Homo sapiens: one gene and its partner. The protein of the gene in region 1 interacts with the protein of each later gene in a pairwise test. Each region holds a gene or a part of one and is shown on either strand. Other genes may lie near its edges.

Region 1 (6,544 bases):
AAATTGAAGTAAGAAGAGTGAAACTTGCAGCATTTTAACTAGACATATTTTCCCATTCCAAACTCACCAGCTCTGCAGTAGCTTTGACAACTAACATCCTATAAAAATGTTTAAAAGCATCAGTCTAGCAGGAAATGGAGGGTGCAAAATGGGGTTGGATCTTCTTCAAAGCTCCATTCCCGTTACCAGAGATGCCATCATTATTTTGACCTATCTGTTGGTTTCCTGACAAACTCTACTTGCAGGGGTTTCTTATTTGACCTAACTCAGAACTCACCCACGGAGAACAGTCTTTTCCTCAGGGACATTTGTTGGAAACAATCAGAACAACTGCTTAACATCATGGCTGCCTAAGGCAATGGATAGAAGTTGGCGAAAAAAAATCAGCTATTCAAAAAGCCTAAAAGAAAAAGCTCAAGAAAATGAGATGTCCATAGGAATTTATTAAAACTCTAATATATTCCTGAGAATCTAGAAAGCCGTACAAACATGCAGGACTGTGCTTATGATCAGAAACAACAACAACAACAACAAAAACTAAGAAGGTCTTGACTTCTCACCTCTGGCTGACCTTTGTGGCTGTGTGTAAGCAGAAGGTAAGGCCAAGGCAGAGTTGCCCAGTGCCTGGCTAAGTGTCAAAGGCATGCCCATCATGGACACAGAGTCTCTCAGCAATGACTAGGGGAGATGTTAGTTCCTGACATCTAAGGAAATCTCTGTCCACTTATCAGCTGACCAATAAGCTATCAGAGCAGAGACCTCATTGATCATACAAGACAAAGAATACAGACATTCTAGAATTATTTAAGAAAAATTACTGAACAACAACAATAACAAACAACAACAACAACAAACCCTGGGTAAGAGAGAAAATCTGATTTTCAGGGTTGCTGGATTGTGTTATTCAAAATTCCCCGTTTCTAACAAAAATGAATAAATAAAATGCAGGCAAATAAATAAGAAAATATAGCCCATACACATTAGGAAAAGGAAGTCAGCAGAAATTATTCCTGGGGAAGTCTAGATGTTGCACTTAATATATAAAGCCTTTAAATCAGTTCAAACATGTTCAAAGGATTAGCGAAAACTATACGTAAAAATTAAAGGAAATTATGAGAACAATTTCTCATCAAACAGAAGATATCAAAATATAAGTGTAAACTTTAATAACCATGGGTTAGGCAATCCTTTTTTAAATATGATCCCAAAAGCTCAGGCAACCAAAAAAATTTGATAAATTTAACATCATCGTAATTAAAAGGTTTGTGGTTTCAAGAACACTATCAATAATTGAAATGGCAAAAGTACCCAGAATATGTAAAGAGCCACTACAACTCAATAATTTAAAAAAATCCAATTAAAAATGAGCAAAGGATTTGAATAGGCATTTCTCCAAAGATTATTACACAAGTAACTGGTAAGGATGTAAAATCATCTTCAGTATCATTAGGCATTAGGGAAATGAAAATCAAAAGTATAATGAGAGTTCACTTCATATCCTTATGATGGCTAAAATAAAAAAGATGGACAATAGCAAGTGCTAGCAAGAATGTGAAGAGATTTGAACCCTCATACATTGCTAACTGGAAATGTCAAATGGTGCAGCCACTTCAGAAAACAGTTTGGCAGTTCCTCAAAACAAGAAACAGAGTTATCATATGATTCAGCAATTCCATTCCTGGTTGTGTATCCAAAAGAATTGAAATCATCTGTCACATAAGAATTTGTCCATAAATATTCCTAGCAGCATAATTCGTGATAGCCAAAACTGGAAATAACCCAAATGTTCCTCAACTGATGAATACATTTAAAAATATAATGTATACAGCCAGGTGCAGTGGTTCATGCCTGTAATCCCAGCACTTTGGGAGGCCGAGGCGGGCGGATCATGAGGTCAGGAGATCGAGACCACGGTGAAACCCCGTCTCTACTAAAAATACAAAAAATTAGCAAGGTGCGGTGGCGGGCACCTGTAGTCCCAGCTACTTGGGAGGCTGAGGCAGGAGAATGGCGTGAACCCAGGAGGCGGAGCTTGCAGTGAGCTGAGATTGCACCACTGCACTCCAGCCTGGGTGACAGAGCGAGACTCCGTCTCAAAAAAAAAAAAAAAAAAAATATATATATATATAAATGTATACATACAATGGAATATTACTCAGCCATAAAAACAAATCAAAACTGGGCACAGTGGCTCATGCCTGTAATCTCAGCACTTGGAGAAACCGAGATGGGAATATCGTTTGAGCCCAAGAGTTTGAGACCAGCCTGGACAACATAATGAGATTCAATCTCTACAAAATTATTTTTTAAAAGCTAGCTGGGTGTGGAGGTACATTTAGTTCCAGCTACTCAGGAGGCTGAAGTAGGAGGATCACTTGAACCTAGTGAGCCATGATCATGCCACTGCACTCCAGCCTGGGTGACAGAGCAAGATCCTGTTTTAATTTTTTAAAAATCAAATTCTGATTCACATTATAGTGTAAGCAAACCTTGAAAATATTATGCTACATGAAAACAGTGAGCCACAAAAGGCCACATATTGCATTATTTCAATCATATAAAATGTCTAAAATAGGCACATTGATAGAGACAGAAAGTAGATTAGCAGTTCCTAGAGGATAAGGAAAGGGTAAAATGGGGAGCAACTGCTAATGGGATAATGAAAATGTTTTAGAAATAGAAAGTGATGATTATGGCACAACTCTGTGAATATATTCCCCCAAAAATCCATTTAATTACTAAAGAGGTGATTTTTTTTGGTATGTGAATTATATGTCAATTTTTAAAAAGAGAAAAAATAAGGCAAGAGGAAGGTAAGATTATTTCCAGCTCATGATGTTCAGGAAAGCCCATTCCAGCATTTTACAATATACAGATGATTAGGCATTCAGAAATACAGGGGAAGGGAGTTGGAGGTGTGAGTTCTGCTCTGTGCAATCATTCAAGAGACAGGCTCCTTTCATGATATGGTCCTGCCACCTGTAACATGAGATTTCAAAGACAGGAGAGAAAACTTGTGTAAAATTATGAAAGAGCTAATGCGATGAGCCCCACTGTCAACATGCCATTAGCTAGAATTTAGTCATAAGGTCCTACCCAATTCCAAAGGTGGATGGAAGACGTTAATTTATCTCAATGCTCAGGAACAATACTTAGTATTGTCTCTGTCACAAAAGGAAAGAGGATACATTCCCAACCTAAGTAACTGAGATTCAGAATTAACCCTGAAATAAGCAGCTACAAACTATAGAGCACTAAAACCAAAAATAATCATAGAAGAAAAGAATATACAAAATTTTGTATAATCTGTTGTTCAGTTAATTTGGAAAGTAACTTTGCTGCCATCTTTCAAACCACCTTAAGCAAAATATTCAGAAACTTCAATAACTAACTAGTATCACCAGTCTTGGCTTGATAAGTAAAGTTACTAGGTATTTGTCGGTTCAACTTACGATACGTTAAACTCTGGAGGTTTAAAAAAAAGTTGCTTAAAAAAAAAAAACAGAATGCAGCTTATTATTTTCCTGAGTTCAGTGTAAGCATAGTTACATTAATGCCGTATGAGTTTAAAATATTGTAAATAAAAAGCACCTTTTTTCAGCTATAACACAAACTCCTCAATAGAGAAATATGGGATATTAGTGCATTAAAATCAACCCCTTTTGAACCCATTCATAATTTATAGCTACCTACATAGTTCTTCCAGCCATACCATGTCTATCTGTATCATTAAATATCCTCTCTGTTTTTCAGGTATTTTAACTGAACCACTACTGGCTGGGTTCTTAATAAAAACAAAAAATTAAGAAGGTAAATAAATTCAGTATCCTAGCCAAAAAGCAGAGTATCTGTTTCAGGAACATAAGACAGTATACTTTCCATTTCATTTTACACACACACATGATGTCTTTTACATAAGAATGAACCTGGCTGCCTGAAGATAGCTTGTTTTGATATCACAGAATGGCCTCTAGGGATCAAGTTGTTTCCCTTGAAAACTTAAAAAGGGAAATTCAGTCTCTTATCCGGCTTGCTTCTCGACTTCAGACTTCAGGAGCTTCTGCATCTGAATCTGTGTCACCCTGCAATTTGTGTCTCTGAAACATAATCCTGTCTCACAGACTCCCATTGCATTGGGATTGGTCAGAAGGAAGCAGAGGAGGAGCCACCGTGAACATGTTTTTTTTCTCTCCACACATCATAAAAATCAGCAGCTGGCGCCTACAGCCCCTAACACTCAAAGCAACGCTCAGGCTGGAAACAGAAGCTTCCGAGAGGCAGCCGATGTGAGCATGTGCGCACAGATTCGTCTCCCAATGGCATGGCAGCTTCAAGGAAAATTATTTTGAACAGACTTGAATGCATAAGATTAAAGTTAAAGCAGAAGTGAGAACAAGAAAGCAAAGAGCAGACTCTTTCAACTGAGAATGAATATTTTGAAGCCCAAGATTTTAAAGTGATGATGATTAGAGTCGTACCTAAAAGAGACTAAAAACTCCATGTCAAGCTCTGGACTTGTGACATTTACTCACAGCAGGCATGGCAATTTTAGCCTCACAACTTTCAGACAGATAAAGACTTGGAGGAAATAACTGAGACGACTCCCTGACCCAGGAGGTTAAATCAATTCAGGGGGACACTGGAATTCTCCTGCCAGCATGGTGAACTCCACCCACCGTGGGATGCACACTTCTCTGCACCTCTGGAACCGCAGCAGTTACAGACTGCACAGCAATGCCAGTGAGTCCCTTGGAAAAGGCTACTCTGATGGAGGGTGCTACGAGCAACTTTTTGTCTCTCCTGAGGTGTTTGTGACTCTGGGTGTCATCAGCTTGTTGGAGAATATCTTAGTGATTGTGGCAATAGCCAAGAACAAGAATCTGCATTCACCCATGTACTTTTTCATCTGCAGCTTGGCTGTGGCTGATATGCTGGTGAGCGTTTCAAATGGATCAGAAACCATTGTCATCACCCTATTAAACAGTACAGATACGGATGCACAGAGTTTCACAGTGAATATTGATAATGTCATTGACTCGGTGATCTGTAGCTCCTTGCTTGCATCCATTTGCAGCCTGCTTTCAATTGCAGTGGACAGGTACTTTACTATCTTCTATGCTCTCCAGTACCATAACATTATGACAGTTAAGCGGGTTGGGATCATCATAAGTTGTATCTGGGCAGCTTGCACGGTTTCAGGCATTTTGTTCATCATTTACTCAGATAGTAGTGCTGTCATCATCTGCCTCATCACCATGTTCTTCACCATGCTGGCTCTCATGGCTTCTCTCTATGTCCACATGTTCCTGATGGCCAGGCTTCACATTAAGAGGATTGCTGTCCTCCCCGGCACTGGTGCCATCCGCCAAGGTGCCAATATGAAGGGAGCGATTACCTTGACCATCCTGATTGGCGTCTTTGTTGTCTGCTGGGCCCCATTCTTCCTCCACTTAATATTCTACATCTCTTGTCCTCAGAATCCATATTGTGTGTGCTTCATGTCTCACTTTAACTTGTATCTCATACTGATCATGTGTAATTCAATCATCGATCCTCTGATTTATGCACTCCGGAGTCAAGAACTGAGGAAAACCTTCAAAGAGATCATCTGTTGCTATCCCCTGGGAGGCCTTTGTGACTTGTCTAGCAGATATTAAATGGGGACAGAGCACGCAATATAGGAACATGCATAAGAGACTTTTTCACTCTTACCCTACCTGAATATTGTACTTCTGCAACAGCTTTCTCTTCCGTGTAGGGTACTGGTTGAGAATATCCATTGTGTAAATTTAAGCCTATGATTTTTAATGAGAAAAAATGCCCAGTCTCTGTATTATTTCCAATGTCATGCTACTTTTTTGGCCATAAAATATGAATCTATGTTATAGGTTGTAGGCACTGTGGATTTACAAAAAGAAAAGTCCTTATTAAAAGCTTAACAATGTCTCCTTCGTGTTATTCATAAGCATTGGACACTTTGCGTGCTTTCGTAACATAGAAATCAGAGCCTCATTAAACATATTCTAATAAATGCTTTATTATATTATATTATCCACCATTGAAATGTAGAGAGTTCATTCTAGCAGTTAAGGGAAAATATTTAAAGAATAGATGTATAATCATTTTTAAAAATATCATCACTGAAATTTCAAGTAATTTAATTAAAGGTTTGTTCATCCTCCCTGTGCAGAAGTAGAAATGAAGCTCCTCTAGAGAGAAAAACAGGTGCTGAAAAAAGAGAGATGCTGAGTTAGAAAACTATGTGTACTTCTCAGACACAGAAAGATTCATCTCCCTTAGCAAACAGCCTGATATTTCACACAGGCAATTCGGTTTGGGGTGGGTGGGAAAAGGCAGCTATAGGGATGAAAGTGTCCTGGAAAACCTAAGTTGCCATGTCAAGCTAAATTTCCTGTTACCAAATTATCCCTAAACAATATTAATAAAACAGAGAATGGGGATTTATGCCCCCTTTAAACAAGGATTCAGGGTCTGCTGAAGTGTCCAGAAAAGGTAATATTGTACTGAGAGATTTAGCTTCCTG
Region 2 (7,264 bases), on another chromosome or scaffold:
TTTTAGTTATTACGTCTCAATTCACTTTTCTCCTTCATTGACACTTCCAAATGCCTTGTCACCTCTCATCTGCAAGTTGGCTGTTTTCTCATTTTCTTTATCATTGTGAGTTTATACCTGAAAAAAATTAAAAGAAAAAACAAAAAACAAAAACCTTTCCTATCATGTTGGCAGAGTTTCCAGAGGGAGCAGAGGTAAATGCACATACTTGATCTACTTTGTTTATCAGGAAGCCCTAGCCCATATTTTTATTGAATTAGATTTCACTAAAGACAAGTTTCTGCAATTGGCTATTAGCAATCAACTTTTTTTGGTGACAAGACTGAATATTTAGGATTAAAAGTTTAAGGATGTTCATTTTATTTCCCAGCTAAAAAAGAATGTAGTAGCCCAGCATAGTGAATTTATAATCTTTGGATTTATTTCCTTGGATTTACTTATAACAATATGTTTGAAATGTGTTAAGTAGAAAAATTGGCAGAAGTGTATGTGTGTGTTTGCAACTGTGACAGCAAGGGAAACCGATGGAAGAAAAGAATGAATCCAAGAGAAAGCAGAATGTTAGATTTTGATTGGGACGGTGGTGGTGTTTCAGATCCATAGCCATATAAACATTTTAAATATCATCAATAATTTTTTAATAAGTACCTAAATTTGATGGTTGTTTTTTTAAACTGTCTAACGTTACAGACCATTCATCATCTATTTGTGTCTTAAGAATACTGCCCCAGTTTCGCTGTGGGTCCCTTTGAGTGAATGCATTTCTAGCTTTTGAGGCCACGCTATCTGTAGTTCTCATTATCTTGGTTGCTTTCAGAAGCCTCATATAAGCCAAAGGGTGAACAATAACCAGAGAACAGAGATTCTTAAATTAAGCAACTGAAAAGAGTCTGCTTTGGTTCATTAGCCCAAATAGGATCTTTTACTTTTTGAGTAGCAATCAAAAGATATTGGATCTATCATTTCTCTTGTTCTCTTAAAAAATCACTTAAATTTCCTTTAAACAATCTGGTGATGTGATGTCAGATTTTTGCCCATCATATTATAACATCATTGTTAAGTAGTATGAATGGAAATGAAACATACACCTCAAAATATCTAACGGTCCTGATATAAGGCTAAAGAAAACAAATAGTCTTTTCTTATCTTTCCCCTTGGATGAATTTAAAATAGATAATTCTTAACAGTTTCATCCTACTTCCGTAGGGTGAATTTTCCCCCAGTATGGCTTTGGAGTAAATTTTCACCTTTTTGCTAGATTTATGACTGCTATTACCAATACTATTAATTATTTCAGTATGATATAGCACTTCTAGGAGGCTGACCCTACTTAATTGGAAAAAAAGAAAATATGTTGGAGCTTTAACATTTCTTGATCATAGAAGGTACTGAAACATAACTCATGATTCTAGGCAAACTTTGCCATTGAGTTTTTGTGTGACCATATAAAATAATTTAAGTTTTCTGTGTCTACATTTGTAAAGTATATGACACTCAACTGTATAATGAGCTCACAGTCTAGTGAGCTTGATAGAAGATAAGCTAATCTGGGGTAGAAATCATGCTTTATTCATATTTGTTTTCTCTTGCTTAAATTCATAATAGTTACTCAGTAAGTGTTGACTAAAAGTGTTTGAGAGAGAAACAAAATACAAGGTGAGTGAAAATTCTGAGATCCTTGTGAGAATAATTCATATAAATTTAATATATTCAGCTTGATTCTAAAGGCAATGTTGAGAGGAGGCCCGTGGGGCTGCATGTTCTTCAGTGTAATGTGAAGTACTGAGCTGATTATAGTGGTTATTCAATTAAAAGATATGTATTTTAAAATTATTATTATACTTTAAGTTCTGGGATACATGTGCAGAACGTGCAGGTTTATTACATAGGTATACACGTGCCACGGTGGTTTGCTGCACCCATCATCCCGTCATCTACATTAGGTATTTCTCCTAATGCTATCTCTCCCCTAGCCCCCCACCCCACAACAGGCCCTGGTGTGTGATGTTCCCCTCCCTCTGTCCATGTGTTCTCATTGTTCAACTCCCACTTATGAGTATATTTTTAATGGGCAAGCTCTGCTCAAATACAGGCTACAGTCAGTATGTGACTGAGCTGTGATCTCTCTCGTCAAAGGGACTACAGCGCACCCTTTGAATTACCTTCACACTCACTGACGGTTTTAAGAGTTTGGCCACTTTCCCCACGTCTGAAAGCGACTCTACCTTAGATGTGAGAAAGATGCGGCTGACTTTGGCTGGCAGATGGAGAAGAATGGAAAAGCAGCAGACAGTGTTCATGCATGGCTGACACTAGAAAGAATTCTTCTGGATTTCACAGTCATTGAAATGAAAAGATGTGATCCAGAACAGGATCTTCCTTTTAACTGGTGTCTGCAGTGTTCTCTCCTCTGCTTCTTCACTCATTTCAAGAAGTCTCTAAGGGGCAGCCTGATGTGGAAAAGATGTTAAGGGAAGAAGAGGGCATCCTAATTCTAGGTTTGATAAGGACATTTTTGATACTGGTAAAACCCTGAAATTATGGAAATTATGATTTGTTCTGTATGCCAACGAGAATCGTGGTTTTCCTTTTGCTCTTTTCCTTGCGAAGGAGCCAACTCCTTCTGGATCTTTGTTTTTATTTTTTCCTCCTTAAGTCACTGCTGAGGTATTTTTAAACCAAGCCAACACGTATATTTTATTCACCGAAGGAAGAACAAAGCATCTGCTAATAGAAGCAGTGAAAAAAGCACAGCAGTCAGAGGCCTCGTGTCTAAAGCTCAGTTCATTACTCCTAACCTGCCATTGGCCAATATTTCAACCTTTCTGAGTTGCTCTTTCTCATCTGCAAAATGGGGTTAATGGAGGATTTCATCTGCAAGTGGGGATAAGAGACATGAAAAGAACTGACGCGAAATAAACACGAGTTGAATCCTAACAATAATATTTTGACTATGTAGTTACAACAAACTTTTCTTTCTTCTTTTTTTTTTTTTCTGTGAGAAGTGCCTTTGGTGGATTTTGAATTCTTTTTCATACTGCCTGTTCTTTGGTGGGACTCCAGCAACATTGCTGTAACTCGAGGATATATGGCTGCAATGTGTGTTTGGCTTCCTTTCTCAAGGGGGTCAAATAAAAAGGCAACTGTTTAGAGAAGGCACCAAAGTACAAAACAAAAATCTCAGAATATGCCAGCCAATCTTGGAAAGTCATCTGAAGAAGAAAAAGTGCTGCTGAGGAAGGAAAACGGCCCTTTTGTGGGCATCACTTCTGCTCTTCTGAAAAAAAGCCCCGATGCTGCAATATTTTTCAAGGCAGAATATCGTCCCAGATGGAGGAGGGAGCACTGACAAGCAGAAAAGGAGAGACGTGCGGTTTCGAGGCAGCGTCTGTAAGGGGTGGAGAGCGCGGGGCTCGGAGCCTCGCAGTTCTTTGTTGGGGGCGCGGGCTTCGTTATTCCCGAGGCAGCAATGGCTCCCCCTCGGAGGTCCCTCCGCGGAGACCGCCTCGCGCCTCTCGCAGTCCCCAATCCCCGCCCCTCCCAGCCCTCGCTGACCCCACAACGTGGTCGGACTGCGGTGCCTTTAAGGCTTTTGCCTGCTGCACATGCTCAGCTCTTTGTGTGTTGTTGGAGTTTTTCTCTCTTAAGAGAAAAAGAAGAAATAGGCAGGAGGATGGGGCGGAGGAAGGGGGAAGCGCTAGGGAAAAAGCGTTGCACTTTTGCAGCTGCAGACGGCGGACGGGAAGGACTTCTTTTCTGCTGAAGCTGCGAAGCCTGTGTCGATCTCTCATTCGTGGGGCTCCCGGGGCGCGGGGTGCGGGTGGGGCCGGGGTGCCCGCACCGGCCGGGGGGAAGGGCACGCGGGCCACACCTGGGGGGCCTGTCTCCAGTCAGCGCGCGGGCCAGGCGGGGTGGGCGCGCGCGCGTGGGGGAGTCCCCGGTCCCTGTCAGGGGCGGGGCGAGACCAAGGCGCCGGGCCTGTGGGGAGGAGTGTAGGCGCGCGCGAGGGCGGGGGGCGGCCCCACGCATCGTGGGCTCCCGGCGCTGCCGCTGCGGCCGGCTCGAGGCACCGGAGACAGAATGGCTGCCGGGGCGCCCTTGACCGCCGGGCGGGCGAGGCGGGGCTGACCGCCGCCTCCTTGATCGCCCCCTTCCACGTTGGGCGCGCCCACTTCGGGGCGCCCGCTCGGCCCCCGCCCTCCTGGGCGCGCGGCGCTCGGAGCCGAGGCAGTTGGCGCGGGCCGCGGGCGAGGCGGGGCCGCGCGCGGGGTCCCCTCCTCCTGCCGGTCAGGTCCCCTCAGGAGCGCCGGGCGCAGTCTGCGCCTCCCGCTCCCCGCCTCCGGCCGGGTCCGGGACGCCGCGGCTGTGGGGTCGGCCCGCTAAGGACAAGGTCGGGAGACTGGGTGGCGATGCCCGAGTGCGACTGGAGGCAGCCGAGCGGAGGCGACGGCGGTTGGGATCTGTCCCTCCTGACCGGGGAGCGGGACTCGGACGGGCGCCGGTGAGGAGGAGGAGAAGCGGCGGCGGAGAGGTTTTCTGCGGCCGGAATTCCCTTCAACAGCATCCCTGTCGGCGCCCGCGAGCGCAGTCTCGCCGGGCAGGGGCGCCGGGGAAGATGGAGACTGGGGGCCGGGCCCGCACTGGTACCCCGCAGCCAGCGGCCCCGGGGGTGTGGAGGGCTCGGCCGGCGGGCGGCGGCGGCGGGGGCGCCTCCTCCTGGCTGCTGGACGGGAACAGCTGGCTGCTGTGCTATGGCTTCCTCTACCTGGCGCTCTACGCGCAGGTGTCCCAGTCCAAGCCGTGCGAGAGGACCGGCTCCTGCTTCTCGGGCCGCTGTGTCAACTCCACCTGCCTCTGCGACCCGGGCTGGGTGGGGGACCAGTGCCAGCACTGCCAGGGCAGGTTCAAGTAAGTGCCTTCGCCGGACCCCGAACCTCCAGCCCTGCCTCGCTCCCGTCGCGGCCTTCCCCGCCCCCCTCGCGGCCTCCCCCGCCCCCGTCGCTGCCTCTGATCCCCCGGCCGTGAGTGAACCTCAGCGCGCGGCGGGAGCGGGCGAGAGTGGGGCCCGCGCCGCGCCCCCTCCAGCCCCGGGGCGCCCCGGGAGAGCTCGGGCCCGCGCGGAGCCCTGACCAACGGGGAGCTAGGCATTTCTCGAGCGTTCCAGATGTCCGCAGCGACTTCTGATCCGCTGCTCAGCACGAACATTTTCACAATCAGTTATGATGCCCAGCACCATTTTCTTGGGATAATATTTAAAAATCAGAAATTGTCCAAGTTACTTATGAAATACATGCGCATTGTGAAAAATTCACAAAAGTGTAAAGGTTCAGTTATGATCTATGAGTGCCTCTCTCTTTCCCCATTCTCTTCTCTCTAGAGGTGACCCCTTCTAACATTTATTTAGTCATCATAGTGATGTTAATAAGTAGAGTTTATGATGGACTTGCTAAGTGCCAAACACTCTTCTAAGCGCTTTATGTCAATTTTCTCATTTATTCCCTACAACAACTCTGTGAGTTGCTAGAATTATTATGCTGGATTTACGGAGAGAAATCGAGGCGATACATTGAAGTAACTTGGCCAGGATTACACAGTAGTAAGGGCCGAGTTATGATTCCAAATCAGCTGGCACATTCTGGAGCCAGTACACACTCCAGAATGTGTACTTTTAACGAATTTGCTGTGTTGTATTTGCTAGGACAATCTTGAATTGAGAAATACAAAGGTGACTTTAGGTTAGATAGAAGGACGTTTTTATGTGGTGAGGATAATGGATTTTTTTCTGATCGGTTAATTCACTGTCAGCTTTTGTGCGGGAACATCGCTTTGGCTTGTTTGAAGCTCAAGGAGCCTAAGAAGTTTGCTTGCTAAGGTGAAGGTACTTTCTTCGTACTGGTTGGTGTTTATTACATTCTTGCCTGATATAAAAAGCAATGGGTCACAGTGTAGGGGAGTAGCAAAAGTCACTTAATATTGGGGCAGGCTTCTAACAACATGCAGGTAACAGTCATTAAGAAAGTCAGCTTCTTAGTCTTCTAGATACTTAATATGAAGTTTGCTGGCTGGTTTGTGGCTCTTGAATATTGTAGATTACTGATATTGTTAGGCTGATAGCCAAAATCTAGGTGAAATTTCTCTTGGGCTCTAAGGCAAAGGTAAGACTGGTTCACCTTATTAATGTATTCTAGGACAATTTCCTGGAATTTTAAACACAGCATACTTTCCTTTTTTTTTTTTTTTAAAAAAAAACTTACTATTACTGATTAAAATAAATGTCCCTTAAAACTCAATGTAAAAATGTATATTTTTAAAATGGCACTTTAAAATTTTAGGTAGAGTCTATGATTTAAATTAACTAGTAGGTTTTGGAAGTGAAATCTTAAAGTGAAGTTTTATGAAACTTATGCAATAGGTTGAAATTTTTCTAGGGTTTATACTTTAAAGGTAGTATAGTAATGTAGTTTTAAAAATACTTTTTAAAAAAATTAGGAGAGATGCTGATTAAAAGTTTAAAAAGTGTTTCAAGATGAGGAAAGAGATCTTAATGAATTCTGCTTGTTAGTTGTTTTTTTTTGCTTGTGTTCTTAAACGTTTGCTATGACAGTAGAATTCAGCGTCTTTACCTAGCAAGAGAGAATTTTGAACATGTAAACTGGTAGTCAGCAGTGAAAAAGCCTCATCCATTTTTTACATTTTTTTTACATAAATAGGGAGAGTGCCTGATTTATATGTAGGGATATTGGCTTTTGTGTGGGTGGGTTTGCTCCGTTTGTCTAAAGAGGACAAAATTTGCTGCAGTCCTGAGAAGCTTCATTTTAAAGTAGCGGAACTTGTTAATCAGCTGGATCAGCAGCCTGTGACCTCACTAGCAGATGTTGTCCCAGTTAAAAAGATCACAGATCAAGTTAAAACTAGCTTAAATAACATTGAGAGGTGGTGTTCATAAACAAAATACATTAGTGAGTAGAAGAAGAATAGATATTTGATGTAGATATTGTTAAATAACAATAAATCCTGAGCTAATCACTGAGTATTCATCTTTTCCTTGGAAGCTATTATTTCCTAGGACTCATTGTACTCTATTGGGTAAATGCTTTTGCATTTCTCTGTGGAATACAAGCTATTAATTAGAGTAAATATAACTGGTGTAACGATCTGTGTTTTTATTATGTATACTCTTGGGGATAAAGAACACATTGGTATTTAATGTTAAAGAGAAGGATTATGTATAGTAGAAAAGAATTCTTCTTGGTAAAGTACATGC

The links.
Region 2: the proteins of MC4R (region 1) and ATRNL1 interact in a two-hybrid assay, tested with the Homo sapiens proteins (one study listed by BioGRID).

The regions. Positions count from the first base shown.
Region 1 is NC_000018.10:60,370,464-60,377,007, reverse strand, and holds MC4R (melanocortin receptor 4), read left to right. Parts: upstream 1-4,232; 5' UTR 4,233-4,658; coding exon 4,659-5,657; 3' UTR 5,658-5,946; downstream 5,947-6,544.
Region 2 is NC_000010.11:115,089,136-115,096,399, forward strand, and holds the start of ATRNL1 (attractin-like protein 1 isoform 1 precursor), read left to right. Parts: upstream 1-4,229; 5' UTR 4,230-4,409; coding exon of another isoform or gene 4,410-4,501; 5' UTR 4,502-4,615; coding exon 4,616-4,908; intron 4,909-7,264. UniProt on the Homo sapiens protein: May play a role in melanocortin signaling pathways that regulate energy homeostasis.